6 linked regions of the Homo sapiens genome follow. The protein of the gene in region 3 interacts with the protein of the main gene of each other region in a pairwise test. Each region holds a gene or a part of one and is shown on either strand. Other genes may lie near its edges. The genes, in order: UTP14A, UBASH3A, SNRNP48, SUPT5H, LUC7L2 and EXOSC7.

What was found.
Region 1: the proteins of SNRNP48 (region 3) and UTP14A interact in a two-hybrid assay, tested with the Homo sapiens proteins (one large-scale study listed by BioGRID).
Region 2: the proteins of SNRNP48 (region 3) and UBASH3A interact in binary tests that used the Homo sapiens proteins (3 or more experiments, as listed by UniProt).
Region 4: the proteins of SNRNP48 (region 3) and SUPT5H interact in a two-hybrid assay, tested with the Homo sapiens proteins (one large-scale study listed by BioGRID).
Region 5: the proteins of SNRNP48 (region 3) and LUC7L2 interact in a two-hybrid assay, tested with the Homo sapiens proteins (one large-scale study listed by BioGRID).
Region 6: the proteins of SNRNP48 (region 3) and EXOSC7 interact in a two-hybrid assay, tested with the Homo sapiens proteins (one large-scale study listed by BioGRID).

What each region holds. Positions count from the first base shown.
Region 1 is NC_000023.11:129,908,246-129,913,487, forward strand, and holds part of UTP14A (U3 small nucleolar RNA-associated protein 14 homolog A), read left to right. Parts: exon of another isoform or gene 1-308; intron 309-424; coding exon 425-489; intron 490-2,762; coding exon 2,763-2,905; intron 2,906-3,520; coding exon 3,521-3,676; intron 3,677-4,333; exon of another isoform or gene 4,334-4,446; coding exon of another isoform or gene 4,447-4,465; intron 4,466-5,064; coding exon of another isoform or gene 5,065-5,150; intron 5,151-5,242. UniProt on the Homo sapiens protein: May be required for ribosome biogenesis.
Region 2 is NC_000021.9:42,409,601-42,414,842, reverse strand, and holds part of UBASH3A (ubiquitin-associated and SH3 domain-containing protein A), read right to left. Parts: coding exon 5,235-5,242; intron 1,820-5,234; coding exon 1,621-1,819; intron 1,434-1,620; coding exon 1,320-1,433; intron 1,285-1,319; exon of another isoform or gene 1-1,284. UniProt on the Homo sapiens protein: Interferes with CBL-mediated down-regulation and degradation of receptor-type tyrosine kinases. Promotes accumulation of activated target receptors, such as T-cell receptors, EGFR and PDGFRB, on the cell surface.
Region 3 is NC_000006.12:7,595,515-7,600,756, reverse strand, and holds part of SNRNP48 (U11/U12 small nuclear ribonucleoprotein 48 kDa protein), read right to left. Parts: intron 1,085-5,242; coding exon of another isoform or gene 1,056-1,084; exon of another isoform or gene 898-1,055; intron 1-897. UniProt on the Homo sapiens protein: Likely involved in U12-type 5' splice site recognition.
Region 4 is NC_000019.10:39,468,659-39,473,900, forward strand, and holds part of SUPT5H (transcription elongation factor SPT5), read left to right. Parts: intron 1-97; coding exon 98-203; intron 204-420; coding exon 421-514; intron 515-603; coding exon 604-740; intron 741-1,460; coding exon 1,461-1,616; intron 1,617-1,718; coding exon 1,719-1,865; intron 1,866-2,698; coding exon 2,699-2,845; intron 2,846-2,946; coding exon 2,947-3,072; intron 3,073-3,750; coding exon 3,751-3,835; intron 3,836-4,151; coding exon 4,152-4,271; intron 4,272-4,353; coding exon 4,354-4,456; intron 4,457-4,544; coding exon 4,545-4,672; intron 4,673-4,757; coding exon 4,758-4,863; intron 4,864-5,242. UniProt on the Homo sapiens protein: Component of the DRB sensitivity-inducing factor complex (DSIF complex), which regulates mRNA processing and transcription elongation by RNA polymerase II.
Region 5 is NC_000007.14:139,362,345-139,367,586, reverse strand, and holds part of LUC7L2 (putative RNA-binding protein Luc7-like 2), read right to left. Parts: intron 1-5,242. UniProt on the Homo sapiens protein: May bind to RNA via its Arg/Ser-rich domain.
Region 6 is NC_000003.12:44,985,031-44,990,272, forward strand, and holds part of EXOSC7 (exosome complex component RRP42), read left to right. Parts: intron 1-4,109; coding exon 4,110-4,211; intron 4,212-4,519; coding exon 4,520-4,614; intron 4,615-5,242. UniProt on the Homo sapiens protein: Non-catalytic component of the RNA exosome complex which has 3'->5' exoribonuclease activity and participates in a multitude of cellular RNA processing and degradation events.

The sequences.
Region 1 (5,242 bases), on a different chromosome or scaffold from region 3:
TAAGCATTATATAATTAACTGTTAGCTGTTATTAGTCTTAGTGCTATTATTGTAAGCATTTGCAGTCTTATTCCACACTGAAAATCTTTTAAAGCATTGAGTAGGCATTATTTAACCCCATTAGAGAAATAAATTTACTTACCCCCAAGGTCACCTGGCTCATAAGTTACAGGTTCAGGTGTGTTTGAATCTAAGTCCAATATGTTTTCCACTATGCTTACCTTGTAATAAAGAGAAGAGATGAGGGTTAGACAACCAAGTCCAAGTTAGGAACAGATCTCCTTGCTGCATCATGACAAAACATGACCCTAGAAGAAATACAAGAAACCAAAGCCCTGTTTGAAGAGAGAAGTGTTTGTCTCTCCCAACCCCAAGCCCCCATAAAATTTATTCATTCCTATTATATCGTTTTGCCTAATTTCAGGCGGAAATTGGCTGAGAGGTCTGAGGCTAGTCTGAAGGTGTCAGAGTTCAATGTCAGTTCTGAAGGTAAGTTGAACAAAGGAAGATACCCATGCATGAAACCTGTGGAGTTCCAAGGGCATTGTGTTCACCTCACCCCCCCTAGGAACTGTTTTTGATGTGGTTAATGACTCATACCATAAATACCTGGGAGAGTGGGTGAAGAAGTGTAGTCAGATGCCCTTCAGTTTCTTCCATCTCTCAAAGAAAGCCTAGAAGGCTGTGGTCAAGGTATCCTACAGAGTTTGATGAGATACTTATAGGATAGATGGACATGAATAAAGACAGCTGCCTCTTAGTAACTTAGTCATAATTCATATTTGTACAATTTCATTTTTATTTCAGTTCTCTTAACAATGCTTTGAGTTAGGAGACAGGCAAATATTCTCTTCAGCCAGAGCTCAGAGAGGTCACATTACTTATTCAAGGGCCTTTGCCTAGTACAGTATTTCTCAACCTTTGCTTTTTTATTGCTCCCCTGAGAGGAGCCTTTCAAGCCTTTTTTTTTTTTTTTTTTTTTGAGACAGAGTCTCACTCTATCGCCCAGGCTGGAGTGCAGTGGTGCGATCTTGGCTCACTGCAAACTCCGCCTCCCAGGTTCACGCCATTCTCCTTCCTCAGCCTCCCGAGTATCTGGGACTACAGGTGCCCGCCACCGCGCCTGGCTAGTTTTTTGTATTTTTAGTAGAGACGGGGTTTCACCGTGTTAGCCAGGATGGTCTGGATCTCCTGACCTCGTGATCCACCCGCCGCAGCCTCTCAAAGTGCTGGGATTACAGGCGTGAGCCACCGTGCGCGGCCTCAAGACATTTTTTTCCTCATTGTATCCCTCCCCCTGTGCCCCTTCCCCAGGAAATCAAGTCCTAAGGAATAAGAGTTTGTTGGACAGAGTTGAGCCTTGGAGGGACACAAAACATTGTAATATCTAAGATTTTTTTCATACTCTCCCAGAAAGAACCAATTTTCACCCTGGGGTGGCGGGGTGGTAAAATTGCCCCTGTTCAGAATACATGCTCTAATAAGCGGCAGCCATGGGATTTTATCCTAATACTGAGTCTAGATGCCAAATCTTTTTCACCCTGTTCACAACTTAGGCAGCTAGAATGGGTCTTGCATTTGTAGTAATCACTGGTGTAGCCTCCTAGGGCAAATAACAATGTATTCCAAGCGTACTTATTCAGTGGATATTTATTGTGTTTCTACTAGGTAGCAGTATCAGGAACTGTTGTAGATACCAAGGTTAAAGTAGCGAATAAGATGTGAGCTCATGGGGTTTACATTCTAATGAAGGGAGACAATAAGAGAGGATGATGCAGTAAAGCAACTAAGTGGCTACTTTAGATCGGTTGGTCATGAAAGGCCCCTGAAGAGGCAAAATTGAAGCCGAGATCTGAATGACAAGTCAAGTCAACCATGCAAAGATTGGGGAAAGCATTTCAGGCCAAGGAACAGCTAGCACAAAGGCTCTAAGGTAGAAACATGCACAACATGTTGAAGAATAGGAAAGAGGCCCCTGTGACAAAAGCATTCTAGAGGGTGGGGGTTGATATGAGGTTAGAGAGGCAGATGGGGATTAGATCTCATAGGACCATGTCCTTTAGGTAGATGAGATTCAAAGTATAATGGGGAGTCACTGGAGGATTTTCAGCAGGGTCATGACATGCTGTGGTTTATATTTTCGAAAGATAATTTTGGGCTGGATACAGTGGTTTACACCTGTAATCTCCAGCACTTTGGGAGGCCGAGGTGGGCGGACTGCTTCAGCCCAGCCATTTGAGGCTGGCCTGGGCAACATGGCAAAACCCCATCTCTACAAAAAAAAAATTAAAAAAATTAACCACGCGTGGTGGCACGCGCCTATAGTGCCAGCTACTTGGGAGGATTGCCTGAGCCTGGGAGGCAGAGATGGCACCACTGCTCTCCAGCCTAAGTGACAGAGTGAGACCCTGTCTCAAAACAAACAACAACAACAGCAAAAAGATCACTTTGGCTGTTTTTATTTTTGGCTGTTATGTGAAGAATGAATTGCAATGGGGCAAGAGTAGAAGCACCAGGAGAAAAGCAAATGAGTTTTGAATAAATATTTTCCCCTATCTTCTACCCCCTAACACGTTTGGGGATGAATGTAGAAGAGTGATAGTGTTGGCATGGCTAGAAATAGGCAATTGAAGTAAGAGAATTATTCTTGCTTCTCTGCACATTTGCCATCTACTGGCATTTTCTACTGAGGCTTCTCCCTACATTATATTGAGATCTTGTCTCACTTCTTGGTCTGACCAGAAAGTTTGACCTTTCCACAGGATCAGGAGAAAAGCTGGTCCTTGCAGATCTGCTTGAGCCTGTTAAAACTTCATCTTCTTTGGCCACTGTGAAAAAGCAACTGAGTAGAGTCAAATCAAAGAAGACAGTGGAGTTACCTCTGAACAAAGAAGAGATTGAACGGGTAAGCTACAGAGAAGGTGGTCTATTAAGGGAAAGAAATTGAATTGACAAGGGAAAATAGGGTAATAGAAAGAAGGGAAAGACCTGAAAAATGGGAGAAGGGGGAGTTGTGATTTCCCCACTATGGATAAGATTAAAAATAATCTAGGAGTGCCAGGCGCGGTGGCTCACGTCTGTAATCCCAGCACTTTGGGAGGCTGAGGTAGGCGGATCACCTGAGGTCAGGAGTTCGAGACCAGCCTGTCCAACATGGTGAAACCCCGTCTCTACTAAAAATACAAAATTAGCCGGGTGTGGTGTAATCCCAGCTACTTGGGAGGCTGAGGCAGGAGAATCCCTTGAACCAGGACGTGGAGGTTGCAGTGAGCTGAGATTGCACCATTGCTCTCCAGCCTGGGCAACACGAGTGAAACTCCATCTAAATAATAATAATAATCTAGGAGAAATTGCAGTCCTGAGAAGCAAGAGGACTAGCATCCTGATTCTTTCATCCTGATTCTAGCATCCTGATTCTTTCTTGGGCTAAGAAATGTTGCTTCCTAATTTCTTGTTAGTCCTTTGGGTTTGATGCTTTAATCTTGTGGCTCTTTCCGTTTACATGCCTTGCCTGCTTCAGATCCACAGAGAAGTAGCATTCAATAAAACCGCACAAGTCCTCTCCAAATGGGACCCTGTCGTCCTGAAGAACCGGCAGGCAGAGCAGCTGGTTTTTCCCCTGGAGAAAGAGGAGCCAGCCATTGCTCCCATTGAACATGTGCTCAGTGGCTGGAAGGTGAGTACAACAAAATGAAACTGAAAGGTGAGATTTTATAAGTTGGAGATTTCAGAGCCTGCAATTGATTTGATTGGACATGTTAAGCTAAACCCCAGCATAAGTCATTTTAGCTTAGTGCTCAGAAAGAAGGGGTTGCCCATCGTCATTGTCAGTCATGTGATAGCCAGTCACAATAGCTCTGTGATCACTTTTTTTTTTTTTTTCTTGAGACAGGGTCTTGCTCTGTCGCCCAGGCTGGAGTGCAGTGGCACGATCTCAGCTCACTGCAACCTCTGCCTCCTGGGTTCAAGCAATTCTCCTGCCTCAGCCTCCCAAGTAGCTGGGATTACTGGCGTGCACCAACACGCCCAGCTAATTTTTTTTTTTTTGGATTTTTAGTAGAGATGGGGTTTCACCATGTTGGCCAGGCTGATCTCAAACTCCTGACCTCAAATGATCCGCCCACCTCAGTCTCCCAAAAGTTTTGTGATTACGGGCATGAGCCAATGCGCCCGGTCTCTGTGTCACTTTTCATCTGCTTGTAGTATACAGTACTTGCTATTTCCATGTTTTTGTGTTAAACCATGTGATTGCCCGTATAGCAGGAACATAATAATGTTTTCTTTCTTTTACCCCAGTTTTTAAAAAGCATTTAAAGCCACATTCTGATCCTAGGGAAATCAGGAACTCGATAACATTAATGATGCCTTAGTGAGGATATGTGAACAACAGAAGCCAAACTTTGCTTGTACAGGAATACCGCATTAAAATATAATGTGTTGCTGGCAATGACTAGAACTTCAGCAGGTAACTTACTATGACTCTGAGCTGCAGGGCAGGGGTTGATGTTTTAGAGCTGGGTTTCCCAAACACTGACCCCTAACAAAGTTTGTGTCTGAAGCAAAAGGATAATTCTAAGTATGTTTGTTTGGTGGGTGTAATGTTGCCAGTTCTTTTTTATTATGAGGTTATTCTATTTTAATGGTGTTGAAATATCTTTTCTTCTATGAAATGATGGTGGTAGTAAATGATGGGATTGGGGGTGAAATGGTAGTTATGCTCTTGGCAAAATTAGAAGTTGGAAATCCTATGTTGGTCCCTGAAGTCCGGTTTTTAGTCCGAATAACTGCTTTAGAACAGCTAGCCTACTTTTCCAATACACCATTGGTATGGAGTCTATAATGGGCTGATTAGTCTTAAATAGATGCCCTCTTTGTGCTTCTCCTCTTTACTTTCCAAAAACCCAAGAATGGTAGTTTCTTAGGCGTTGGGAAGTTGAGCTAATTAAAGCTAATCAAAGTAAACATTGCTTGCCACAATAGCTAGAAATTGAGCGAGTAGTTGCTTATTATGGGGATAAGCTGTTTCTGATGTTTTTGCTGAAGTCACTACCATTCTCTTTCTAGGAGGCTTCCTTTTCTACATGAAAAAGAGATCAGGTTTAAAGTGTGGCTGCAGGATGAAGGGAGACTTTAGAAAAAAAAAATCAGAGGTAATACAATTTGTAGGATTCAAAAATAAAAAAGCATAGAAGATATGTAGTGAAAAGTTTGATTCCACCCGTGCCCCATCTGATCATTTTTA
Region 2 (5,242 bases), on a different chromosome or scaffold from region 3:
TTGGTTTCAAACAACAGAAATGTATTGCCTCCCATTTCTGGAGACTAGAGGTTCAAAATCAAGGTGTTGGCAGGGCTGTGCTCTCCCCGAAAGCTCCTGGGAAGGGTCCTTCCTGGCTTCTTCCAGTTTCCGGTGGCCCCAGGCGTCCCTTGGCTTGTGGCTACATCACTCCAGTCTCTGCCTCAGTCGGCACATGGCTTCTCTGTGTCTCTGTGCGGCCTCTACCCTTACGGGAACCCACCCTAATGCAGTGTGACCTCCTCCCAACCAATCGCATCTGCACAGGCCCTATTCCCAAGTGAGGTCACATTCCCAAGTTCCTGGTGGACAAACATTTTTAGGGGACACCGCTCTACACACCACAGGACCTTGGGCAGGCCCTTCACCCTTTGCAGCCTCAGTCTTCCTGTTTTTAAGATGCTGCCAATGAGGTTCACTGGGGGAGGGCCTGGGTGTGAAAGAGCCATCATTTGATAAAGGATACTAATCCACAAAGACCGGGGGCGACTTTCTAATTATTCAGCAGATTCGATCTCCAGACTCACAAGCTGCCATCCAAGTGGAAGCCCAGGATTCAGGGATGGATTTACAGGCCAGGATCTGTGCTTCATACATGTCTGAGCACAGACAGACACGCTCCCAGAGAGAGAAAGTGGGGAGCCCTCCCACCAAGGCACTGCGGCCTCGTCAGATTTTAGAGTCGGCAAATCTCAGCAATACTGAGTGCCTTCTGTGTCCCGGGAACTATGGCAGGATGGGCCACAGACTCAGGCAACATTGTTCTTGAAGAGTGAGAGCCCTCATTGTTTTGTAGAGAAAGAAAAAGAGACAGAGAGAGTGGACATGACTTGATTAAGGTCATGCCACTCATCAGGGACACAGAAAAAAATCACATCTTCTGACGTCAAGTCCACAATCCTTTCCACTAAACCCCAATGGTAGCCTTGGTCTCCAGGCCAGGGCTGGTGTTTGGAGAGAAGGGAATTTTGATGATTCTGAATATGAGTCTAAATAATCTTTCCCTGGAGAGGCCAAGGAGAGAGCACTAAGCTCATACTGAAAATACAGAAATAAGTCACGTAGGACTTGTGTGTCTCCCACTCAAGGCTGGGGTGGGGAGGCCCTGACTCCCTGTGTGCACCAGCCTCCAACCCCGTCACAGTCACCCACTCAGGCTTGATGCTTGGCACACCCTTCTGGGGCACTTTCCCAGGCTGTTGGCATATAGCTAAGCATTTTAAAAACCACATAATGAGAACAAGGCTATTCCCGCCTAAAGAGAAGACCAAAGCTGGTCCGGAAGCTTTCTAATGGCTTACATTTTTGAAGGATGTAGTGGCTCACGAAGGAGGCTCTAGTTAAATTGCTCAGCCTCAGGTTAGGGCCATGTCCAGGCACCTGGCTGAAAATCCAGAAGCGGGAAACGGAAGTGCCTGGGTGAGGACAGGTGCAGCCACTGAGCCCGGAAGAAAGCCCACCCAGCCATCCCACCATTGCTGCTGGGCTCTGCTCCCCTGGAACCCACCCACTGCATCCATGTGCCGGGGGCTAGTCCCTGCCACAGAGGGCTCACTCACTGTGAATCCAGCCCTGTGTTTGCAACTGGCCAGGGCTGCCCACCTGCTAAGAGAGATGCTTCCGTGGCGAAGGTCATGGCGAATTCCCGGATGACGTCTGCGGGGCTGCCACTGACGAAGAAGCCGAGGTAGCTGATGGAGGAGTGGAGAGCCAGAGGCACGGCCGTGGGGAAGGAGCCCAGGAGCCTGTCTCCAGCTCTCTTCAGCGCCTCGTACAGGCATTCCACCTTCTGGTCTTCACACTAAGGGGACAGAGACAGAGCCTGTGTTTCCACACCTCTCATCAGAAGTCATCTATTAATTTAATTAATAACAATCAGGCAGCAATTAAAGTGAGATTCTTTTCTGTTCAAAGCGCTGTAACATAATTTATTGCGTCCCTTTGTGTCTGGGGTTATGGATTTGTTCTATACCTGGACCTCGGTTTTTTCAAATATTTCAGGTAAGTTTCTTTGCAGGTTGGAGTCTCCTTTAGGTGCCCAGGTTGGAAATCCCCTGGTCGTTGAACTGCATCCCCTCCCTCCATGGCACGTGCTCATCACCTGCCAGGCCCTTTCCTCAGTCCCATGGCACACTGCTTTGCTCAGGTTTGCATGATTTGGCTTCTGGAGGTTTCTAGCAGACTCCAAGGCTGCCCAGGCACTGCTCAGAGCCTGTAGTGAGCGGGACTCAGCTGCACTTCCAGCTGCGGGGCCACCCTCTCTTCCACGGCTGAGCACTGAGTCGGGTTCCACAGGGACTCCTCTAAGGCACTGAGGCTCTGCCTGCCTCCAACCCTCTCCTCCTCTTTTGCCTTCACCAGCAGTCTCTCCCCTGTGCGTCTCCTGCACTGGGAATTCTGCCTTGGGGTCTGCTCCCTGGAGGACCTGAGCCTGCACAGCCCCTGGCCCGGCCTCCCTGATGCCCCCTGAGTGGCTGCAGGACCCTCTTTCTGATGCAGCTCCCACCCCTGAGGCCGCAGGCTCTCTGTCACCTGGAGAATCCCTCAGGCCCACGGAGCCCGACAGGTGCTGGCCCGACAGCCTTGCCCACGGGGCTCCCACCCCCATCCTCCAGCCAGACGCAGCCTCTCCTGACATCTGGGCTCGGTGTTGCCTACCGCCCTGGGGAGGCTGCTTCCTGGGCTTGAAAACCTTCCCAGTGCCATTGGCCACATCGGACCACAGGGGAAACCCAGACACCACACCCTCCTGGCGGGAGTTGGCCTGATCCCTTCTCTTCCCAGCACCGGGCTGCCCTCGGAATTTCCCACAGTGCTTCTTACAAGCCCAAGTATGAGGCCAGATCACAGTGTTTAATGCAGCTTCCGTCTCCCCATGGACAGGCCGGCCTGACATTCCTCCCTGTCTGTTTTCTCTGCAACCCTCAACGGCACTCAACACAAAACCACCCAGTGAACACATGTCCATTCCTGAATCCGTCTCACATTGTGTTTCTTGGCCTCAGATATGTAATTTTCAAGAATAGTCATGTTATAAGTGTAGCTGTGATCAATATCACACTTCGGAAGATTAGTGTTTTCATTTTACAGCATCAAGGTACACAGTGAGTCTCCGTTACACTCTTCTGCCTGTGAGGGGAGCTCCACTAACCACGGCCAGGCCAGAACTGGGGTGGGGGACTGGGAGGAGCTAACGACAGAGGGAGGTGTGTGAGTGTGTTTGTGTCTGCATATGTCTATATGTGTGTGTGTCTGTGTGTGTGTCTGCATATGCGTATGTCTATGTGTGTCTGTGTGTCTGCGTATGTCTATATGTGTGTCTGTGTGTATGCATGTGTGTATCTGTGTGCATATGTGTGCATGTGGTGCTTATGTGTGTGTCTGTATGTGTGCATTTGTCTATGTATGTGCATGTATGTGCATGTCTGTGTTTGTGCATGTGTGTCTATCTAATGTGTGTCTCTGTGTGTGTCTGTGTGTGTCTATGTGCATGTATCTGTGTATTCCTGTGTGTGTATATCTGTGTGTATCTGTTTGCATGTGTACCTATGTACATGTAGTGTGTATGTGTGTCTATCTGTGTGTGTCTGTGTATGTCTGTATCCATGTATGCATGTATATATGTGTGTGTCTGTGTGTCTATATCTATGTATGTCTGTATGCAGGTATGTGTGTGTATCTGTGTGTGCTGTGTACGTCTCTGTGTCTATCTGTGTGTGTCTGTGTGTATCTGTGTCTCTGTGTGTGTCTGTATGCATGTATGTGTGTGTATCTGTGTGTGCCGTGTGTACGTCTCCATGTCTGTGTGTGTCTGTGTGTCTATATCTATGTATGTCTGTATGCATGTATGTGTGTGTATCTGTGTGTGCCGTGTGTACGTCTCTGTGTCTATCTGTGTGTGTCTGTGTGTCTATATCTATGTATGTCTGTATGCATGTATGTGTGTGTATCTGTGTGCATGTGTAAGTCTCTGTGTCAATCTGTGTGTGTCTATGTGTGTGAGCTATGTGTGTGTCTCTGTGTCTATCTGTGTGTGTGTGTGTGTGCTTGCACCTCAGTGGGCTGGGGAAGGAGTGGGGGGCCAAGGCCTGCTCTGATTTCTGAGCTGTGTCACATGGCTTGGGCTGCCTTGCCTTTCCCCGTTGGCTCCAGAGGGTGAACCAGAAGGGAGTCAGCTTGTCACAAGTACCATTGATGTCGATGTAGGGGGAAAACTCTCTCGATTTTTCTGGGGCTTTTCCAGGTTTAGTCTTGTGCTCTGGGGATCCCTGCAAGTCTCGGGCAATCCGGGGTGGTGGTTGGAGGCTTTGGAAGGTACTGCTTCTCCTGGGACATCTTCCAGAAATCTTTTCCCTTCAGAGGTTTGCATTCCTCCTTTCCATCCAGCACCGAGGGGCCTGGTGTTGGAATGGAGGGTTCCTTGGGCCCTGATGGAATTCCTTGAAATGGGTGGAACAAATCAGTTTGCCAACAGCAGAGTTGGGGCCAGGCCGCGGTAGCAGAAGTGGGTGTGCCCTTCCTTAAGCCCCTCTGGCGGAGCTGAGTAGAGCAGTGGCTGTCTGTCTCTCCCTTCTCCTTCTTTTCTCCTGAGCAGCTCCCACATTCTTCTTGTCTTCCCGGTGCCCCTGTAGAGCTGCCTGCTGGGCCATTGTGTTTTGCTGTGGAGCTACCCACTGGGCCATTTTTTTTCTGAATCAGACGGCTGGTCCCTGAGACAGGGAAAAGTTCTGCATTTGTGGGTAGCCAACAATCACCCATCCTTGAGTTGACTTACCACACATTTTGGAAGCACAAACTCTGTTTTAGGGGCTGTGCTAGTTTCTGGGGGTGCAAAGATGAGTGAGGTATCTGCCTTCCCTTGAGGGACTCGGTCTGGTGAGGGATGCGGTGCTGCACCAGACACATGGCCCGTATGATACAAAAGTGCCACTAGACACATGAACGAGAAAATGGGCAGCAACTCCTTTTGCCTGGGGAGCTGGAGAAGACTCAAAAAGGGGAGAGGATAAATGAGTTGGGTTCTGAAGGATTAATAGGAGTTGACCAGATGAAGGCAAAGAGGAAAATAAAGGACAGCTCATATGAAGGTGCCAGCTAATGATGCAGTTCTGGACTATCCCATTTAAATAAGTCAACTTTGTCCCATCATGGCCTAGTTAGCACAGAAAAATGCCTCCAGCTGCCGTGAGCATTGAAGGCACACTGGGTTGACTCACCGTGAAGA
Region 3 (5,242 bases):
ACGCCAGGAAAGCACAGATTAAATTAAACTCATTTTAATTTCCTGAGGAGGAAGCATAGTGGCTTAACCAAATTAATTGAAAAAAGTTAATAGCAGTGCCCCCCGGTAGTTACAGAATTTTCTAAAATCTGCTCATTAGTGAAAAAAAGTAAATACAATACCTTGATATGATGTATTAAACATTGAAGAAAATTTTTGTTTTGAGATTCAAATTTTCTCAAATAAAAAAATGATTGGAACTGTAAAAAAAGCAATTTAAAACAATTCTTTCTAGACTTCATTACTCACTAATGCAAACAAAGAACATGAGCTACTAAAGGAATCCTTTTATTGTTTGCTAACTTATTCTAAAGTAGTAACTGGTTCATAGAACAACATAAAATCAGTAGCTCTTTCCAGATACTTATATTTGATAAAGTCTAACCTCATTAAGTTCCTAGGTAGAGGCAAAAAGAATTCAAATAAGAGCATACTATGAACTAAGCATTACAACAAAAAAGAGGTACTACTTGTCTACATATTAAGAGGAGAGCTGCAGTGAATCTGAGGCCATGGTTTAACACGGCTATACATAACAATATATGGCCATTTTTACTCGTCAAAGGGTTTTGAATTAATGGGGAAAAAAGGGTTCCCTTTCAAGTCAATCAATTTTATTCTAATTATAGTAGGCATTTCATAATACAAAATTATAAAAACAGCTTTGATAAGCCTAATTCCTTTGAATTAGGCTATAAAAATTTGGGAGGAAAACACAGATTAGAAAATAATGATGTATTACAAACAAGCTTCATATAAACCTTTGCCTGTTATTTTTAAACAAAGAAATATAATTTCCTTCTTAAATTATTTTAGCCTTTTCTTCAATTTATTCATCTTAAATTTCTTTATGATGAAGACTGATACTTAAATTCCTTGTAATTCAACCAAAATTCCAATTCAAGACTATAATATGTGACAGGTATTAAGATAAAGTTTAGAAATTTTACTTTTAAAAGGATATCATTTGCAAAAAGGATACTGCATATCTTTAAATAAGGAGTACATTCAGGTTCCTAATTCCTCTTTATACTCACCCCAATTACTGAAAAAGAAAAAGTACAGGAAAGGTTAAGCAACAAACTGCATTCAATTCATTCGGAACATAGATATTTCTGACAACAAAAAGGATAAACATACTTAAATAAACTTACATTTACATAAAATGTAAATTTTCAAAATGCATGTTTTTAAATGATTTAAAGGTACATATGAATGTGCTGTAATTATAATAACTCTAAGACCCTTTGGCTGCCTGTTTTTGCAGGTTTTTTGTGGCAAAATATATATAACATAAAATTTAACATTCTAACCATTTTTTCAGTGTACTGTTCAGAGACATGAAGTGCATTCACGTTGTGCAACCTCTATCCATCTCTAGAACTTTTTCGTCACCCCAAATTGAAACTCTAATCTATTGTTTTAATAATGCCAATTCTCATTCTTGTTACTTTTGTCATCAAAGGGGATCTTAAACATATAACATTCAACATTAAATAGTACTAGTAGGTGTTGTCACAAAGATACAAATTCAGAATTTTAGGGAGAATTCATTCAGAGTCAATTCCTTAACGTTACAGATAAAGAAATTAAGTGTCATAGAAGTAACATGACTTGCCCAAAGTCTCACAAGTGATAGGAACAGACTGGATCTAAAGCCCATCCTATGCTGTCTTTTTAAGTTTCTTTGATAGTACACTGATCTTCATATCATGGCCATGACTCAAACACACTTCACAATACTGAAGTATACAACCTGAATATTTAATATTGAAAGAAAAAGATAAACCACTAAACATAAAATGATTGTTTATGATTGAAATATCTTGGTTAAAAAATTAACCGAAGTAACTATATCTGAAAATAAGTATATAGATTGAATAGCTGTATGAGCTTTCATAAAGTTTAAGATTGAGAATTCTGTACACTGAGTTTAGGCCTGACATGACAGATGAAATGAAAACATACATATAAAACCTTGTCAAAAAACTTACATTGTAGTGTGTAACAAACAAAATACGAATTAGATGGAGAAATGTAAAATTTTTCATGTTAGTCATTCTCCCTTAAAAGTAAATACATCAATAAGATATTTAAAGAAAGTCCTGTCCTGAGGGAAAAGATCTTAAAATGTCTAAGACATAAGTGAGCCACAAAAATAATCTGTTGAGAAATTGCATAACTCTACAGAGGATATAAAAAAAAATTTTTTTTTCTTTTTTTGAGACAGAGTCTCACCCTGTCGTCCAGACTGGAGTGCAGTGGCGCCATCTTGGCTCACTGCAACCTCCATCTCCCAGGTTCAAGTGATTCTCCTGCCTCAGCCTCCTGAGTAGCTGGGATTACAGGCACGCACCATAGCGCCTGGCTAATTTTTGTATTTTTAGTAGAGACAGGGTTTCACCATGTTGGCCAGGCTGGTCTTGAACTCCTGGCCTCAGGTGATCTGCCCACCTGGGCCTCCCAAAGTGCTGGGATTACAAGTGGGAGCCACCACACGTGGCCAAAAAAAATTTTTAAAGAAGGTTGAAGATCATATAAAGTTACCGTTGGCCAGGCGCGGTGGCTCCCGCCTGTAATCCCAGCACTTTGGGAGGCCAAGGTGGGCAGATCACAAGGTCAGGAGATCGAGACCATCGTGGCTAACACAGTGAAACCCCGTCTCTACTAAAAAAATACAAGAAAATTAGCCAGGCGTGGTGGCAGGTGCCTGTAGTCCCAGCTACTCGGGACCTGAGGCAGAAGAATGGCGTGAACCCAGGTGGCAGAGCTTGCAGTGAGTAGAGATTGTGCCACTAAACTCCAGCCTGGGCGAGAGAGCAAGATTCCGCCTCAAAAAAAAAAAAAAAAAAGGTTACGGTTAACAATTAAATCTTAATTTAAGATAGTGTAAGAATTCAAAATTAAAGTTCCTCTTAACTATCAAAATAATATAATAGTTCCTCTTAACTATTCATTCAAAGTAATTCTTTGCTTTTGAAAAGAACTAAGCTCAATGTCCAAATCTCCCTTATTACTATTATAAAAATTAAAAAGCAGAACATTTTCTAAATTACTCATATATATAAAACTCATCCATTTCATTATCTTAATATTACTTTCTGTATATTAATTTTCACTTAGACCATAGAAGCTACCAATTTTTGGAGCTAAGGCTTGTTTAGCATCCATTATCTCTGTTCCTCTCAACAACTCTATGAGAGTTTTGTATTACAGATAAGGAAACAAAAACTCAGTTATCATCATTAATATATGGCCAAGCAGCTACTTTTATTTCTTTAAAACAGGTTTACACAAAGCAGAATAAACAATGAACAGCACTGATAGTCACGATTAGTATGCAGAGATATGAAGTTTGTGATATTCTTCCACTTAATCATGAAAGACATCATAAATAAATTTGAGCAATATCTAGAATCCTGGTCCACAAATTTTACTAAATGTAGGGTTTCTAACAGAAAATCAAACAACTCAGTTCAGAGTTTGTGTCAAAATTCAGAACTTAGTTCTGGATCCACTTTGATATTATCTAGCAGAGGTGAGTTACTTCACTTTTGTGTGCCTGTTTCTTCACCTATTATGGAGGGGAAAATATCGTTCAACTTATCACAAGTTTGTTGTGAAAGAGAAATGTAATTCATAAAAGAGCTTTAAAAAAATAACCTTTTAAAAAATAAAAATACGGAGAACCTTTAGAACAAACACACTAGAACTTTATCATGTCTCTATCAGACAGGGTTTTTCTTATCTGTAAAATGCAGACACTGGATTAGATGATCTCCAAGTTCTCTTTCAACTCTAAAATTCAGTAAATCTAACCACTTAAGACTCAAATAAAGTCCTTTAAGTATTATTAACCCTTTCAAAAACCAAAAACCTCAACTTTTTTATGGGTACACTACCAGGGGATATGAGCAGAACCAATAGCAGAGGCCAAAAAAGGCTTGACTAGTCATAGCTCAGTAATCTCTCCGAATAAATAAAATGAGAGTCAACTGTCTCCCTCAAAGAAAAAAACCTGGAATTTCCCTGACAGGGACAAAAGTGGGAACCTCAAAACAAAAAATACAAGAAATGTGCTTCTGGCTGTTGTAGAGAACCCATGTAATATAGACAACTAAGGATAAGATGGTCTTTCTTCTGAAGCCATAGAGCAACTCTGAGAAATCAAGTCCAGATACTGGCTTAGAACAGTATTTGGTAAAGATCCTCAATTTCAATGAGGGAGAAAACCAACCATGACTACAGCCTGGTAAATATAATTCAGCTAGAAAAAAGAATGAGGAAAAAAAGGTAAGTTGTCCAGAGAAAGCTACCTACAGAAGGTTCAAAGAAGACAATGCAGAAATCCTTACAAGAGAAGCTGTTCAGGTTTTGGCTAGATGTCATATCTACATTCATTAGAAATTTAAACTTTTATTAACTCGTTTGTCTATGTGTGTTTTTTTTTTTGAGATGGAGTCTCGCTCTGTTGCCCAGGCTGGAGTGCAATGGTGCAATCTTGGCTCAATGAAACCTCCGCCTCCTGGGTTCAAGCAATTCTTCCTGCCTCGGTCTCCTGAGTAGCTGGGATTACAGGTGCTTGCCACCATGCCCGGCTAATTTTTGCATTTTTTAGTAAAGACAGGGTTTCGCCATGTTGGCCAGGGTGGTCTTGAACTTCTGACCTCAGATGATCCACCTGCCTCGGCCTCCCAAAGTGCTGGGATGACAGGCATGAGCCACCGTGTCTGGCCTATGTCTATGTTTTTGATGGATGAAGTTTTCTTTCAATTTCCTAAAAGCTTATGCTTAAAACTTCTAACCTACTCTCTGCTGAGGTTCCCAGGGAGAAACTCTTTAACCCAGCTCTAAAGCTGGGCATGAAAGGATCTATTAATATGAATCCTCTGAAATTATATGTAAAACTTTTGTGTTTGTACTTTTTTTCTGAGAAGGGGATCCCAAGCATTCATCACCTCAAACCAACTCACTTACTGGGTAGCAAGCAATCTGAGGGTAGCTGTGGAGACTAATCTCTTTTAGCCTAAGCCTTTTCTTTACACTGCATTTCAACACTCTAAAGAGAGGAAATCTCAAGAGTAAAAGAGCCTCACTCAGTGGCATTTATAGATGTTCCTTGACTTACATGGGGTTACATCCCGATAAACCCATCATAAACTGAAAATACCGTTAAGTTGAAAATGCAGCCCAGCGTCTGATA
Region 4 (5,242 bases), on a different chromosome or scaffold from region 3:
GGTCCTCTCCTTCTGTTGCCAGCTGAGAAGACTGAGGTACAGCAAGATTTTCTTCTTGACTCTCCCTTCTAATCTTCTCTCCCCCATCAAATTCCAGGTCCCTGGGGGGTGATGTTGCCTCTGATGGTGACTTCCTCATCTTTGAGGGGAACCGTTACAGCCGGAAGGGCTTTCTGTTCAAGAGCTTCGCCATGTCTGCTGTGGTGAGGGTCCCAGAGGGGTGTTGGTAATGGGGGTGGTGTGAGTGTTCTCCTGCAGGTGATGCCCTGGGCTGTGGGTTATCTGGTTCTGTCCCACTCCTCAAGTTAGGAGTGTTCCCTAGGAGAATTATTCCCCTAGGACCCACTCAGCCCACTCAGCTGGGCTGTTGCACTGACCTCGGTCCATTTCCTTCTCTTCCCCTCACCGCTGGGGGCTTAGATCACGGAGGGTGTGAAGCCAACACTCTCTGAGCTGGAAAAGTTTGAGGACCAGCCAGAGGGCATTGACCTGGAGGTGGTGACTGAGAGCACAGGTATTTGATCCCCCTCTATAACCTGGGCCAAGGAGCAGGGGCGGCCCATGGTGGCAACCCCCGAGTCAGCCCTACGACTGCCCCTGCAGGGAAGGAGCGGGAGCACAACTTCCAACCTGGGGACAACGTGGAGGTCTGTGAGGGTGAGCTCATCAACCTGCAGGGCAAGATCCTCAGCGTGGATGGCAACAAGATCACCATCATGCCCAAGCATGAGGACCTCAAGGTGGGTGCCCGGTGTTCTCGGGCAGGGGTTGGAGTGTTCAGGCACATCTGACTGTATGTGGCTGTCGAGGCGGTGGTGTGCCTGGTGACACCTGGTTTCCAGGAGGGTAAGTTGAGGCCCTTCTAGCATTCTCAGGTGCCTGAGAGGCTCTGTCTGAGTGCAGCTCAGGGTCGGTGGGCAGCAGGCCTGCCTGGTGGTGTCTGTCTCTGGAGAGTGACTTGGTCTATCTTTTGTTTCTGAAAAGCAAGATATCTGGGTAGTACTGGGTTGAGAGTGTGATTAACCAAGGAGTAATCTGAGGCTTGACTTTGTTTGCTTAGAGCGGGGTGTGTGTTTGTCTGTGTCTGGTGTATGTCTGAGGGGTTGTGCAGGCCCAGTGTGATGTGTGGGGTGAGGCTGTCTCCGGGTGGGGCTGAGGAGCTGTCCAGTCGGGGGTCCTGTGTCTGAGGGGCAGGCTCTCTGTGTGGGTATAGGTAGGCATCGTGTGTCTTGAGGGCGGGCTGGGGTAAAGGTTGTCCAGGTTGGTGTCCTGTGTCTGGGGTCAGCTGTTTCTGGGGCAGTCTGAGGGGTCGTCCAGGTGGACTAAGGTAGTCTGGGGTGGGTGGTAAGAGCCTGAAGTGGGGTTTTTGAGAACATGCGTAGATTCTGAAGACAGGAGGGGCAGGCAGGTTGTGGTGGTCTCCCTTCACCTGTTTGTTGTCCCCACACCCAATCCCCCAGGACATGTTGGAGTTCCCAGCCCAGGAACTTAGAAAATACTTCAAGATGGGGGACCACGTGAAGGTGATTGCTGGCCGATTCGAGGGCGACACAGGCCTCATTGTGCGGGTGGAGGAGAATTTCGTTATCCTGTTCTCTGACCTCACCATGCATGAGGTAGGTGGATAGAAGGGTCGGGGAAGGGTGCACGTGCCAAGAGGAGACCCAGGTAGGCGAGCCACCTGGACTGGGCCTCACCCCTTTCACCATCCCTGGCAGCTGAAGGTGCTCCCCCGGGACCTGCAGCTCTGCTCAGAGACAGCATCAGGTGTGGATGTTGGGGGCCAGCATGAATGGGGCGAGCTGGTGCAGCTGGATCCCCAGACTGTGGGTGTCATCGTGCGACTAGAACGGGAGACCTTCCAGGTGTGTGTGTTGTGCTCTGTGGCGGGGACTTGCTTTTAGGAGGCTTCCTGTCCCTCAACCCCTCATCCTGGGAGGTGGCAGAGCCCCCAGACTGCTCTGGGTTGCAGATCTGGCTCTGTCACTTACATCTGAATGGCTGATAGTGGGCACATGGCAAGTCATTGATCCCTCCCCTTGCCTGTTTTCACACCCTATAAAATGGAAACGAGAGCAGCGTCTACTTTGTTCATAGTGAATGATTCCCTGAGGTTAGATCTGTACCCTGGTGGCTGTTGCTCGCTCAAGGATGGAGTGCCACATGTGCCCTCCTGCCTTTGCTCCTTCCTCATGGATGTGGGAGTCATGGAGCACAGTACTTAGGATCCTGGACTCCACATCCACATCTTGGCTTTGTTGCTCCTGTGCTGTCTGACCCTGGGCTAGTGACTCACCCTCTCTGAGCCTGAGTTTCCCTCTGTAAGATGGAAATCATGACAGAATCCACCTCAGAGGAAGTTTTGAGGCTTCAGTGAAATCTTACGGGGCCTGACACAGAATGATGGATGAACAATGTTGCTATCAGCCCCTTCTTCCATCTCTCAGGTCCCTGTTGCCCAATCGGGGGTGGAGTCTCCTTCCAAAGGGTGTTTTAGAATGACTGGGAACATTTTTGGTTGACCCAGTACCTAAAGGGTGGCACTCTGCCTGCCTGCCCCGCAGCCAGGGAATTGAGATGCCTTGTGGAGCTTGGGACTGTCTCCCACAAGGAAGGATTATCCCACTTTAGGGAACCCCTGCCCCGTGTCTCCCCTTCCCATTCTCACCCCCACAGCCTCCCTGCTCTCCCTCTGTAGGTGCTGAACATGTACGGGAAGGTGGTGACTGTCAGACATCAGGCTGTGACCCGGAAGAAGGACAACCGCTTTGCTGTGGCCTTGGACTCAGAGCAGAACAACATCCATGTGAAAGACATCGTTAAGGTCATTGATGGCCCCCACTCAGTGAGTACAAGTTCCTGCTTTTGAGCTGCATCTGAAAGAATTTGGTTGGTTGGGGGTGAGGGGGACATGGTCAAGAGAGTGACCCTTCTCTCCCCGGCTAGGGCCGAGAAGGGGAGATTCGCCATCTCTTCCGAAGCTTCGCCTTCCTACATTGCAAGAAACTGGTGGAGAACGGGGGCATGTTTGTCTGCAAGACCCGCCACCTGGTGCTGGCTGGGGGCTCAAAGGTGAGGTGGGCATGGCAGGACCCTGTGCGTTGGGTACCTGGCTCAGCTCTCCAAGCCTCCTCTGGCCCCAGAAGTGATAAGATTGGGCTTGTGAGGGATTAGGAGAGCAGTGTCATTGTCAGGTCCTTGGCAAAGAGTGAGAAGGTTTATTTGGGATTCTGAGCTGTTCACCAAGTTATTTTAAGTTATTTATTCATTTCATTTTACTGAGCACCTGTTAGGTGCCAGACACTGGAGAACCAGTGGTGAACAAGACAAAAATACTCTGCTCTCACAGAGCTGATACTCTAGAGGTGGACAGACAGATAAACCCATCGTACAGCTTGAGGTGATAGCAAGCGCTGTGAAGAAAACAGAATGGGCTCAGGAGACAGGGAGTGACCAGGGCTGCTGTTTTAGACAGAGGAGGGTAAAAAAGGCCTCAGTGGGAGGCAGTATTGGAGCAGAGACCTGAATGAAGGGATGGAGAGTGAGCATTTTGGGGGAACAGCAAGTGCAAAGGCCCTGAGGTGGGGCTTGTAGGAAAGTGTGCAGGACCAGCTGTCACAGAGGAATTCAGGCCTGGGGTGTGGGTGGCTGGGTGGTCTCCTCAGGGCCCTGCACGTGGGATGATGAGTTCCTGTGGTTTGTGGTTCCCCCATCCCCTGCCTGCCAGTTCACTCCTTGCTTCTATCCTAGCCCCGTGATGTGACCAACTTCACCGTGGGTGGCTTTGCGCCTATGAGTCCCCGGATCAGCAGCCCCATGCACCCCAGTGCTGGAGGTGAGAGGGGTTCAGGGTCAGGGGATGTGGTGGGTAGAAGGGGCTGGAAGGAACTTGGTTGTTCAGCCTACACTCACTGAGTGCCTGTGCTGGGCTGGGCACTGCTATTAGGGGTTCACCACCCACAGGAGGGTAGACGCCACAGTGACAGCCCAGAATGGTCAGGGCTTCCATAGGAAAGCCATGGGGCAGGGGTGGGCAGAGGAGGCTCTTAACCCAAGTAGGGAGGAGTCAAGCAAGTGAAGGGGACGTTCTGATGGTGCCCTTGCTGTGGGCACAGCCGTGGGGGACCAGTGACATTCTCCCCAATCCCCAGGTCAGCGTGGCGGCTTTGGTAGCCCAGGTGGCGGCAGTGGTGGCATGAGCAGGGGCCGGGGCCGGAGGGACAACGAACTCATCGGCCAGACCGTGCGCATCTCCCAGGGGCCCTACAAAGGTGACCTGCGAGGCCTGTGGAGGCCTGGGGAGGGGCATGGTGAAGGAGAGCCTGCCCAGCCTGACCTCCTGTCCCCCTGCAGGCTACATCGGTGTGGTGAAAGATGCCACAGAGTCCACGGCCCGTGTGGAGCTGCACTCCACCTGCCAGACCATCTCTGTGGACCGTCAGCGGCTCACCACGGTGTACGGGCGGGGCCTGGGGAGGGCCAGGGTGGGGCTTGCTAGGCAGTGAGAGGGGTCTGCTCACCCCATTTGTTCTCTGCGTCCCCAGGGGCTCACGGCGCCCGGGCGGCATGACCTCGACCTATGGGAGGACGCCCATGTATGGCTCCCAGACGCCCATGTATGGCTCTGGCTCCCGAACACCCATGTACGGCTCACAGACACCCCTCCAGGATGGTGAGTGCCCGCAGGGGACAGGGAAGAGGGGCTAGGGGGACCTAGAGAAGGGACAGGACAGACACACTCATTTCCCCCATTCCAGGTAGCCGCACCCCACACTACGGCTCACAGACGCCCCTGCATGATGGCAGCCGCACTCCTGCCCAGAGTGGGGCCTGGGACCCCAACAACCCCAACACGCCGTCACGGTGAGTCCAGGGTTCCCCAGGTTCTGGTGTGTGCTGGTGTGTGTGAGGGATGATGCTGGGTGTCTGGGGCATTGGAGGGGTTTGTGGGGCCCACCCAGCATTCTCTGCTCCTAGCCTCAGGCTGGTCCCTTTGAAGGAGGAGGCATAGCATGGCGGGGCGGGGGCAAAGCGGCCTCCTCTCCATCCCCAACCTCAGTAGTGATTGTGGTTACCCTTGGGCCTGGAGAAAGACTGCCTGGGTGGAGTGACCTTGGGAGGGCACCCTCATCTCTGTCAACCACAGTGTCAGCTGTGGAAGGGAAATAACATCAGGAGTGCCTCTGGATGGGGCTCCCGTGAGAATGAAATTGCTTCAGTTGGGGGTCTGGTGTAGGGTGCT
Region 5 (5,242 bases), on a different chromosome or scaffold from region 3:
GTGTTACATGATTTTGCCAACAAGACATTTTAAATACCACTCAGTAAGGAAATTATTAATCACAATTAAGTCAAGAAAAAAAGTTCCCATTTTGCAACAGTACTTGTTTAATAAATTTAACAACTTCTAATTTTTAGCACAGGAACCCTAAGTGACAAGAGTCTAGTTACATAATACACCATTTTGTTTTCATTGTATTTATTTTTATGGTGGTATAAACTTTCATTTTAAAATTAACTTAAAATTTTTAGAAAGTGAGTTGACATAAAGGAAAATATTAAATAAACAGAAAACAGTAAATAATAATAAAGGCAAGGCCAGGCATGGTGGTTCACGCCTGTAATACCAGCACTTTGGGAGGCCAAGGCAGGTAGATCACTTGAGGTCAGGAGTTTGAGACCAGCCTGGCCAACATGGCAAAACCTCATCTCTACTAAAAATACAAAAATTAGCAGGGCATGACAGTGCATGCCTGTCATCTCAGCCACTCGGGAAGCTAGGGTAATCGCCTGAACTCGAGAGGCGGAGGTTGCAGTGAGCCAAGATCAGGCCACTGCATTTCACGCCTGGGAGACAGAGACTCTGTCTCCAAAAAATAAAAAATAAAAATAAATAATAATAAAGGCAATAAGTGTGACAAACATTTGGGAAACACTGATCTAGAAGAGGGTTTCTCAAACTTTTAATGTGTATCAGAATCACCTGGAAGGTTTCTAAAAACATGGATTGCTGGGGCCCATATCCAGAATTTCTGACTCAGTAGGTGGGTCCAAGAATTTATATTTCTAACAATACGACGTGATGCTGAGGTGATGCTGAATTGCTGCTCCAAGGACCACACTTGGTTTAGAATAACTAAACCAGAATGGTGATCAACAAGCTTTTGTTAGAGTCAAATGGTAAATGTTTTCGGTTTGCGGGCCATATGACTCTGTTGCAACCATTCAGCTCTGCTGTCGTAAGCCAAAGCAGCCATAGACATCATGTATATGAATCGGCATGGATGTGTTCCAATAAAACTTTATTTACCAAAAGCAGGAGGCCATAGTGCCAGTCCCTGATCTAAAACATACCTTCAAGTAACTTTAACTATTAAACTATTAAAGTTACTTTAAGAGAAAAGTCTACCATTTAAACTAATACTAGAGCACAGTACAGAACAGAACAGCCAGGTATATTATAGATACTATCCAATAATTATCAGTTAACTCTAAAAGAGAAAACTGGGGTCTGCAGAAATCTAAGGTATTAAGATTAAAAACAAAAACCATTTACCATATTCAGGAGACAAGATTCAGCAAGGGCAGCTGGTTAAATTCCTTTCATGTTGAGTCAAATAAGTCAAACATCAGTTGTACATGGTTCACAACTATACTGGAACATATGGGTCAATACTGAGTGCTTTTTGGAAAGAAGTTTTAAAGATTCTTTTCTATGCTAATAGCAAAATATGACATTTATTCAGCTGAATGGACTTCATGTTACTTTCTGACGGCTTTGACTTCTCAAAGTCCTAAGTTATTCAGTTCAAACAAAAACATGGAGCTGCAGATGATTTCAGAGTTTTCACAAATTAATTTCTCTATATCCTCAATAATCTTGCAAAACTGAACAACTGACCTATTTTGGCCCTGCCTTCCAATATCTATTCTAGCAGCTGCTAGTGCATGAGAACCTAAACAAAAAGGAAACAGAATAGCTTTTCTGCAAGTTTTGAATTCACAAGATTCCCTCTTCACTCCCTCATTCTTTTTCCAGTAAGATGTTCCAACTTCCTTCACCTTCTTATAGTTTCTTAGTAGATTAAGTTATGCCAAACTGCTTGTTTCCTCAAGAACTCTACATACTAACAGCAGTAGGCTTTAAGAATTCAGTCCTTTTCAAGCACCTTTCTGGAATTCCATCTTTGGGGAGTATCTGCCTCATTTAACTAGTCTTGCCCACTTATTGACCTTTAGTTTTAAACCATCTGCCTGTCTTCTCAACCCTCCTGCTTGCTGAACTCACAGCAACTTTAAGCTTCAATGCTTTGTATGAACCACCTGTTACTGAAGAGTACCTGATTCACTAAACCTGACCTTGATCCATGACACCTCATGGCCATTGAATTCCTACTACCCATCTTGAACACGTTGAACACTACCATCTATCCTTATATGACAACATCCAACCTAAACGAAAATAAAAGAATTTACTTGCTCCTTATAGAACTGATGCAGAAATAGACAAAATGATTTTTCTTTGTTTTGCTTATATTTACCTGAAGTAAAAGAATGTCTCAGAAGCATATGCTTACTTGAGGAGAACTAAACAACTGTAGAGAATCCAGGAACGATGCAATGTTATATGAAGTGATACTTTTATTGTTTTCTGGGCTGCTGTGTAGATAGAAATATTATTCAGAGTTCAAAATGCAAAATGAGGAAAACTTTTCTTTTTTCATTGATTCACTATGCAGGTGCTTTCAGTGTTTTGGATATGCCTGAAACTCTGATAAAGTTAAATAGTTAACTGAAACGCAGAGAAACTACTGTTTAATCCTATAAAACTCCTTATATTAAAGAATTTACAAGCTCTAGACTAAGAAATATCCTGTTATTATTTAAAAAATGTCTGCGTATACATTAAAGGCTCCGCCTCCTTCACTTAAAATGAACAATCCAAGTGGAATAAAAGAATGGCTCACAACTGACCAAGAAATGAATATGGTTCATTATGTTAATGAGAAAAAATTAAGAGAAAATGTTTTCAATGTTGATGAAAAGTCAAGGAACACAGATTACAGTAAAGATGATTTTATAAATAAAATCCATTAAAGAACGCACTACTTCAAACTTTGATTCAGTAATTTTGCAGAAAGGCAGAAATGTCATACTATCTTACAGATTACACGGTTATGTACTACTAACCTTACATTAGCAACAAGTAAATGGCTTTCTTAACAGTATTTTCCTGGGTATGAGGATGAGTATCCTTTCAGTTTTATATCCCACAAACTATAACTACTGTACAACTGATCAGCAAAAATATTATGATTAATATGTTAACTGAGGAAGTATATCCTACAATTTAGAAAGATTAACATTTAAAATAGTTAAAATTATTGAAAGTTTTAACTTGCCCGAAACAGTCCCTAACCATAAGGGACAATTAATGATGCTATAAAATTCTATCTAACATTCCTAGTCTACTTGTTGTTTTGGAGGGCAGGCTGCCATTCCTGCCTATTTTAATCTTTCGAAGGTGGTCTCTGCTCCCATTTAAAGGTATAAGCAATTAAGAGATACAGAACCCTCAGAACTACCTTCTATAACTTACCTAATTTCTAAGCTTAAAATGTAATCTAGGCTGGGCATGGTGGATCACCCGAGGTCAGGAGTTCGAGACCATCCTGGCCAACATGGAGAAACCCCATCTCTACTAAAAATACAAAAATTAGCCAGACGTAGTGGCAGCCACCTGTAATCCCAGCTACTCGGGAGGCTGAGGCAGGAGAATCACTCGAACCCAGGAGGTGGAGGTTGTAGCAGTGAGCCGAGATCGTGCCACTGCACTCCAGCCTGGGCAACAGAGACCCTGTCTCAAAAAAAAAAAAAAAAAAAAAAAAAAAGGATGTAATCTAAATCCACACCCTCAATTTTATTTAATTCTTATTGCTTGCATCTTCCCAGACTTTCCTGGGATCAAGACTAGAGACTTATGACCAAACTGTGTTTGTTGGCAAAGGGGCTTTAGCTAAGGAACATCCTTGCAATTAATCCAACTGAGCAAAAATCACAGTCTGTGTGAGGGTACTGGGTTCTTCCAACTGTCACACAGACAATTCTCAAACTGTTTCTTGGATTTTCCTGTGCAACTCCTCCCTGCTTTCAAATAGAATGAATATGTTCAGGGAAAACAAATTATCCCTCTCCCCTCTGCTAACAACTAAAACAGAAAGATATTTATAAAACGTAATGAATCATAAACAAGATAAAATAAACTAGTAATTACTATCTACTTATAGCTCCTTTCTAAAAAAACTTAAAATATATTTATTTTTCAACATTTCTGAGTATAACATAGGAAATTATTTGGTTTCCCATATAACAAATTACAGATTTAACTTGAGGCAAAAAAGGTTAAGTGACTTACCCAAGGTTACAATTAGAGGTACAGCTGGGGCTAGAAACCAGGTCTCCTGAGTCTCAGCCCAGTGCTCTTTTCCTTAGCCCATGATGCCTTATCAGAAAAATCCAAATACAGTCAGACCCCCAGTTATATGGGTATGAGTTACACTGATTCACATATACAAACTTTATATAGTGTGACCAATGTTTCAACTCACGCGGTACCCTGCTTCCATTTATGCAGTATGCCAGGCATCGGCACGATTTTCAGTGGCACACAGGCGGTTGCCACCACCAGGGCCCTAGGCAAAATTGCAAAGAAGGCAGAGTTTGTCTTTGGCCCTCCCACCTCCCTTATGCATTTCTCTCCCACCTCCTGGCAGTCCCCCTGCCCAGCCTCCCGGCACCATCATGCTGCCCTCAGATTGTCTAAAGCCCCCAACTTCCACCACTCACCCAGGAATGTCCTTTCTTGAAGTGCCCAGTGATCCAAAATTACCTCTCCATTTCCCTGCTAACAAAATTCCTACTCCTAAGGATTCCAGTGAAGTTTAGGTAATCTAAATGATTAACTACTTTATGTAATTCAAGTTAAGGTATATTTAACTAACAGACTTAAATCTCCAATGAATTTTAAAAGGAACTAATTAAAAACTGTCAGGAAGGGGAGGGGGAAGAAACCTTGAGGGGGTGAGGAGGTAATGTTTTCCCAAAGCCCCAGGACTCTGTGCCACTTCAGATTCCTTCACAGACAGGACACTAAGAGTGGAGGGGGTCACTGCCACCTTGAACCCCACTTCCAAAAAAGAGAGTCGCTGCTTTATAGTCTCTGGAATTAAAAAAAAAAAAAAAAAAGGACAGAGTTGCCTTAAATACCCTCCTACCTACCTTTTCCATCTCTCTCCCACCTCCTGGATACCCATTTCCACCTCTTAGTGCCAAAGACACCCAACAGCGTTCCCATAGGCTGTTTGTGTGTCCAATACAAGGGTTCCCATTAAATGGTTTCAAATTACATGGTGTTATTCAGGGGACGTTTCCATGTTCCCCTATCCCTGGGTAACTTGAAGTTGACTGTATGCTAAAAAAGAACAATCCTAATTATTAAAAGTCCTGAATCATAAAATGATATA
Region 6 (5,242 bases), on a different chromosome or scaffold from region 3:
CCATATTTACACCCCACAAAGAACTTCTTGTCAATAACCTTTCTGGGCTGGGTATTCACTTTCCTAGCTGGGGAGTGGGGCACATGGAGGTGGAGAGGGCTGGAGTGTTAGAGATTGAGCTAGAAAGCCTTCAGGTTCTATGGGTGAGGTTGGGAAGAGACACAGTTACATAGTTATGGGTCTTCCAGTGAAGAGGGATCACCTTCTGGAGTTCTATCCTAAAGGCTTACTCTCTTAGACTTGAAATTCTGTTGCTTTTTGAATCCATCTCCAGACTCAAGATAGGGATATTGTGTCTGGAATTGGTGGGTTCTTGGTCTCACTGATTTCAAGAATGAAGCTGCAGACCCTCGCGGTGAGTGTTACAGTTCTTAAAGGCGGCGTGTCCGGAGTTGTTCCTTCTGATGTTCAGATGTGCTCGGAGTTTCTTCCTTCTGGTGGGTTCGTGGTCTCGCTGGCTCAGGAGTGAAGCTGCAGACCTTCATGGTGAGTGTTACAGCTCTTAAGGCGGCACACCTGGAGTTGTTCATTCCTCCCGAGGTGGGTTCGTGGTCTCGCTGGCTTCAGGAGTGAAGCTGCAGACCTTCGCGGTGAGTGTTACAGCTCATAAAGGCAGTGTGGACCCAAAGAGTGAGCAGTAGCAAGATTTATTGCAAAGAGCGAAAGAACAAAGCTTCCACAGTGTGGAAGGGGACCCAAGCGGGTTGCCACTGCTGGCTCTGGCAGCTTGCTTTTATTCTCTTATCTGGCCCCACCCACATTCTGCTGATTGGTCCATTTTACAGAGAGCCGAGTGGTCTGTTAGACAGGGTGCTGATTGGTGCGTTTACAATCCCTGAGCTAGACACAAAGGTTCTCCACCTCCCCAGTAGATTAGCTAGATACAGAGTGTAGACACAAAGGTTCTCCAAGTCCCCACCAGAGTAGCTAGATACAGAGTGCTGATTGGTGTATTTACAATCTCTTAGCTAGACATAGAGGTTCTCCAAGTCCCCATCAGACTCAGGAGCCCGGCTGGCTTCAACCAGTGGATCCTGCACTGGGGCCGCAGGTGGAGCTGCCTGCCAGTCCCCTGCCATGCACCCGCATTCCTCAGCCCTTGGGTGGTCGATGGGACTGGGCGCCGTGGAGCAGGGGGCAGCGCTCCTTGGGGAGGTTGGGGCCACACAGGAGCACCCATGGGTGGGGGTGGGAGGGCGGGGAGGCTCCCGCATGGCAGGCTGCAGATCCGGAGCCCTGCCCCGTGGGAAGGCAGCTAAGGCCCAGCAAGAAATTGAGCACAGCAGCTGCTGGCCCAGGTGCTAAGCCCCTCACTGCCTGGGGCCAGCTGGCTGCTCCAGAGTATGGGGCCCGCCTAGCCCACACCCACCCGCTGAGCCCATGCCCACCCAGAACTCGCGCTGGCCCGCAAGCACTGCCCGCAGCCCTGGTTCCCACCCACGCCTCTCCCTCCACACCTCCCAGCAAGCTGAGGGAGCCGGCTCCCACCTTGGCCAGCCCAGAAAGGGGCTCCCGCAGTGCAGCGGCGGGCTGAAGGGCTCCTCAAGTGCTGCCAAAGTGGGAGCCCAGGCAGAGGAGGTGCCGAGAGCAAGCGAGGGCTGTGAGGGCTGCCAGCACGCTGTCACCTCTCAATATCTTCCAGGGAGGAAAGGTGCTGGGGGAAGGATGGGCTGCACAGGACCTTCCACCTGATTTGTGATGTTTATTTTCTGTCATTGAAAAGTTAAACGGGTGAAAGACCTGAAGCAAGTATGGCAGAGGGTGATCATTGGTACTGTGTGGTGCTGCAGTGTTTTGCTTTTTTCTGTTTAATTTCTCAAAAAAGTCAGTCACATATGCAGTTAGCCAGGCAGTTTAAAGATAAACTGTCAGTCACATACTTTAGAGCAGTGTTTTATTTTATTTTTTATGTTTCTGGGAAGCATCAACTCCTTGGAGAATCTGATTAAGCTAATGATTCTTTTTCTGAAAAAAACTGCTTTTGAAAAATGTTTACAAAGAATGAGAAGGAGCTCCATGAGCCAACGTGGAATGATTTCCTGCATATATATAGTTAAGTGTTAAAAAAAAAAAAAAAAGTAAGAGTATCTATAGTATTCCACCCTTCATATAAGAAACAAGGAGATATTAAAAAATTCATGTATTTGCTTATTTGTGCAGAGAAAATACAAGAAAGATAAACCTGAAACTGAAGAGAAACCTAGGGTGAATGGGAAGAAAGGGGCATGAAAATAGCATAATACGGAGGAGAGTGACATTTCTCTGAGCATACTTTTCTGAGTTTTCTCTCAGAACTATAGTGATAGCTCACAAACTCAGAAAGTAAATAAGTAATTAAAAGTAACCATGATGTGGGGGAACCCAAAATGGAAAACAAAAATTTACAAATGAAAATTAGCCAGGCATGGTGATGTGCCTGTAATTCCAGCTACTTCAGAGGCTGAGGCGGGAGAAGCGCTTGAACGCAGGTGGCGGAGGTTGCAGTGAGCTGTGCCACACTGCACTCCAGCCTGGGCGACAGAGCCATAGTCTAAAAAAAAAGTTACAAGTTACAAATGAGCCTGTGTTACAAGTGAGTAATGTAACCACACTGAAGGGCACGTAGAAGAAAAGAACTGAAGTAACTGGAAAACAGTATTTTGCCTGGATACTCTGAGGCTAAAGACAGAACTTTACACAAATACTGTGTGCTATTAGTAAATTTGTTTCTCACAGGGGTATGGGTTAGAAGTTCAGAAACTGTGTATACTAAGATTGAACAAATACAGAAATACATGTTAGATAATAAGAGCCAGCTTTCTCCTTCTTTGAGAAAGAAGTTACAAATAAGAAACAGAGGAAGGTTAGAATGAACCATGTGATGTTAGATTGGAATTGATCTATCAGTATGAACTCTTGGCTTTTTAATAGATATGTAGATAGATACAGAATTAAACAGATTTGTGTGTGTGTGGTGGGGGTGGTTAGTATACATAACTGTATTTTCTAGCTCTGTCTGCTGAGAAGTTCTGGAAGAAATAATACTCCAACAGCAATGAACTTAGAGCCTAGTTCCTGGTTTTAAGTACCATTCCCCAATAAAAGCAACCAGGGCTCCTTGGAGAAAGGCTTGATCCCTAGGGCTGGGCAGAGAAGACACAAGAGGATAGATATCTTGTGTTGCAGAAAGTAGATAATTACTCAAAAAGTTGGAGGCATGTTGAAAGAGCACAAAAACTAACCCAAAGAAGCCCCCAGTGGCCAAATTTGGAACACTTTGAGCAGCAAAATAACTAATGATAGTAGTGGATTATAACCATAGCATAAAAGATACCAATGAGTTGTACTGATACAAGTAATTGAAGGAGTAAATAAATGGGCAGAAGGAACAGGCAGCGCGTAGACCACCCTGAAAACCATCTTCTGCCAAAAGAGTCAGCAAACTTCCTGTAAAGGACTGGATAGTAAAGATTTGGGGCCTTATGGGTCATATCTCTGGCCCAACCACTCAGCTCTGCTTTTGTAGTGCAGAAACAATCATAGACATTACCTAAACAAGTGGGCATGGCTATGTTCCAGTAAAACTTATTTACAAAAACAAGGGACCTTAGTTTGTTGACCCTGTTCTAGAGACTGCCTCTTTAGAAGATTAGGTGTCTTTCACTATTTACACAGTAGATCTTGTTGAGTTTTAGGGGTAGGAGGGCTTCAGTTGAGATGATTGTACTCTGTAGCTCTGACAACATATACTTCTTGGTGCAATTTAAGAATTGCAGATTTAGAGAGAGGTGGCTTATTTTGTCTCTTGTTCAGATCTTGTTTTTGTGTGCATATTCTATATAGTGGTATGTAGTATAGATTTTGCAATCAGACACAACTGGCATGGAAAACTAGCTTTGTTTTCACTAGCTGTAGGACCTTGGACAAGTCGCTCAACTTCTCTGAGTCTCCATTTCCTCATATGTAAAATAGTAATGTTGTTGTTAGCTACAAGGACAGAATTTTAGATGATCCACTAAGAGGAAAAGAGATATTCTGCATATATCTTCTCTAGGGGGAAAATGGGTGAGTCCGTTTAGGAGTTATTGTTGATCTGGGGTGACTATAGGACTGTGGTTGTTAACACCTAGGAAGACCTCCGTGTGGATGGCCGTGGCTGTGAGGACTACCGATGTGTCGAAGTGGAAACTGATGTGGTGTCCAACACTAGTGGGTCCGCCAGGGTCAAGCTGGTGAGTACTGTGACCATGGTTCAAGCCCAGGTGGAGAAATGAGTAGGCCCTAAGGAATGAGCTGCTGACGCTGTCTGGCTTTTGGAATGCAAATTGCTCTTGGGGAAATCGAAGATCCGAGCCAAACTCAGGGAGGGGGGGTCTATCCAGATCTGAAAAGACTGCTCACCTCCTCCAAAGACCACTTTCCAAGTCTTAGCACTGCTCCTAAAAGAGTCCCCCAGGGGTGTATGTCCAGAAGAGGAGGGAGGTGGTGGAGTACCTGGCTGCATACTCTGAGTGAGGACTCTTCTTGCATGTGTCTGCAGGGTCACACAGACATCTTGGTGGGAGTGAAAGCAGAAATGGGGACGCCGAAGCTGGAGAAACCAAATGAAGGCTACTTGGAGTTCTTTGTTGACTGGTCAGTACTGTCTATGCAGATATTTCTAAAGATAAATGATTTTAAAGATGAAGATTCAGAAAATGAACCTCTGGTTTGCTGTTGAACCCACTTTTATACTTATCATTCAGCCATCCAGCAGGCATTTGCTGACCTCCTCCTATGTGCCAGGTACATAGTCAGGACTCTTGGCTTGAGTCCTGCCCTAGTCTTAACCACCTGGCTATTGCTGGCCTTGTTTTCCCTGTCCGATAAAGGAGGACATTTGCCAGGCAGCCTAGCACATGATTGTGATGAGGGTCAAATGAAATGATTGTGTTATGGTGCTTTGAAAAATATACACAGTAAGGATCATTTGGTCTAAAATGTGCTGTTTCTCTTCCTACTCTAGTTCTGCAGAAAACTGTTCATGATTTGCTTGACAGATGAAGCCTAGGGTCAGCCAAGCAGCCTGACAGGCTGAGGAAGTGGCAGCTAGGCAGGCAGTATGGGTGCTGAGAAGAGAGAGGGCTCTGCAGTGTCTGCAGCCAGCCTTGGGCCAGAATGTCACTTCCTTCTCTGGCCAGCTTTGTGATCTCAGGCTGGTTACTCAGTCTCACTGTGGCCAAATTTCTTCATCTAAAAAATGAGGATAATAAATAATACCATG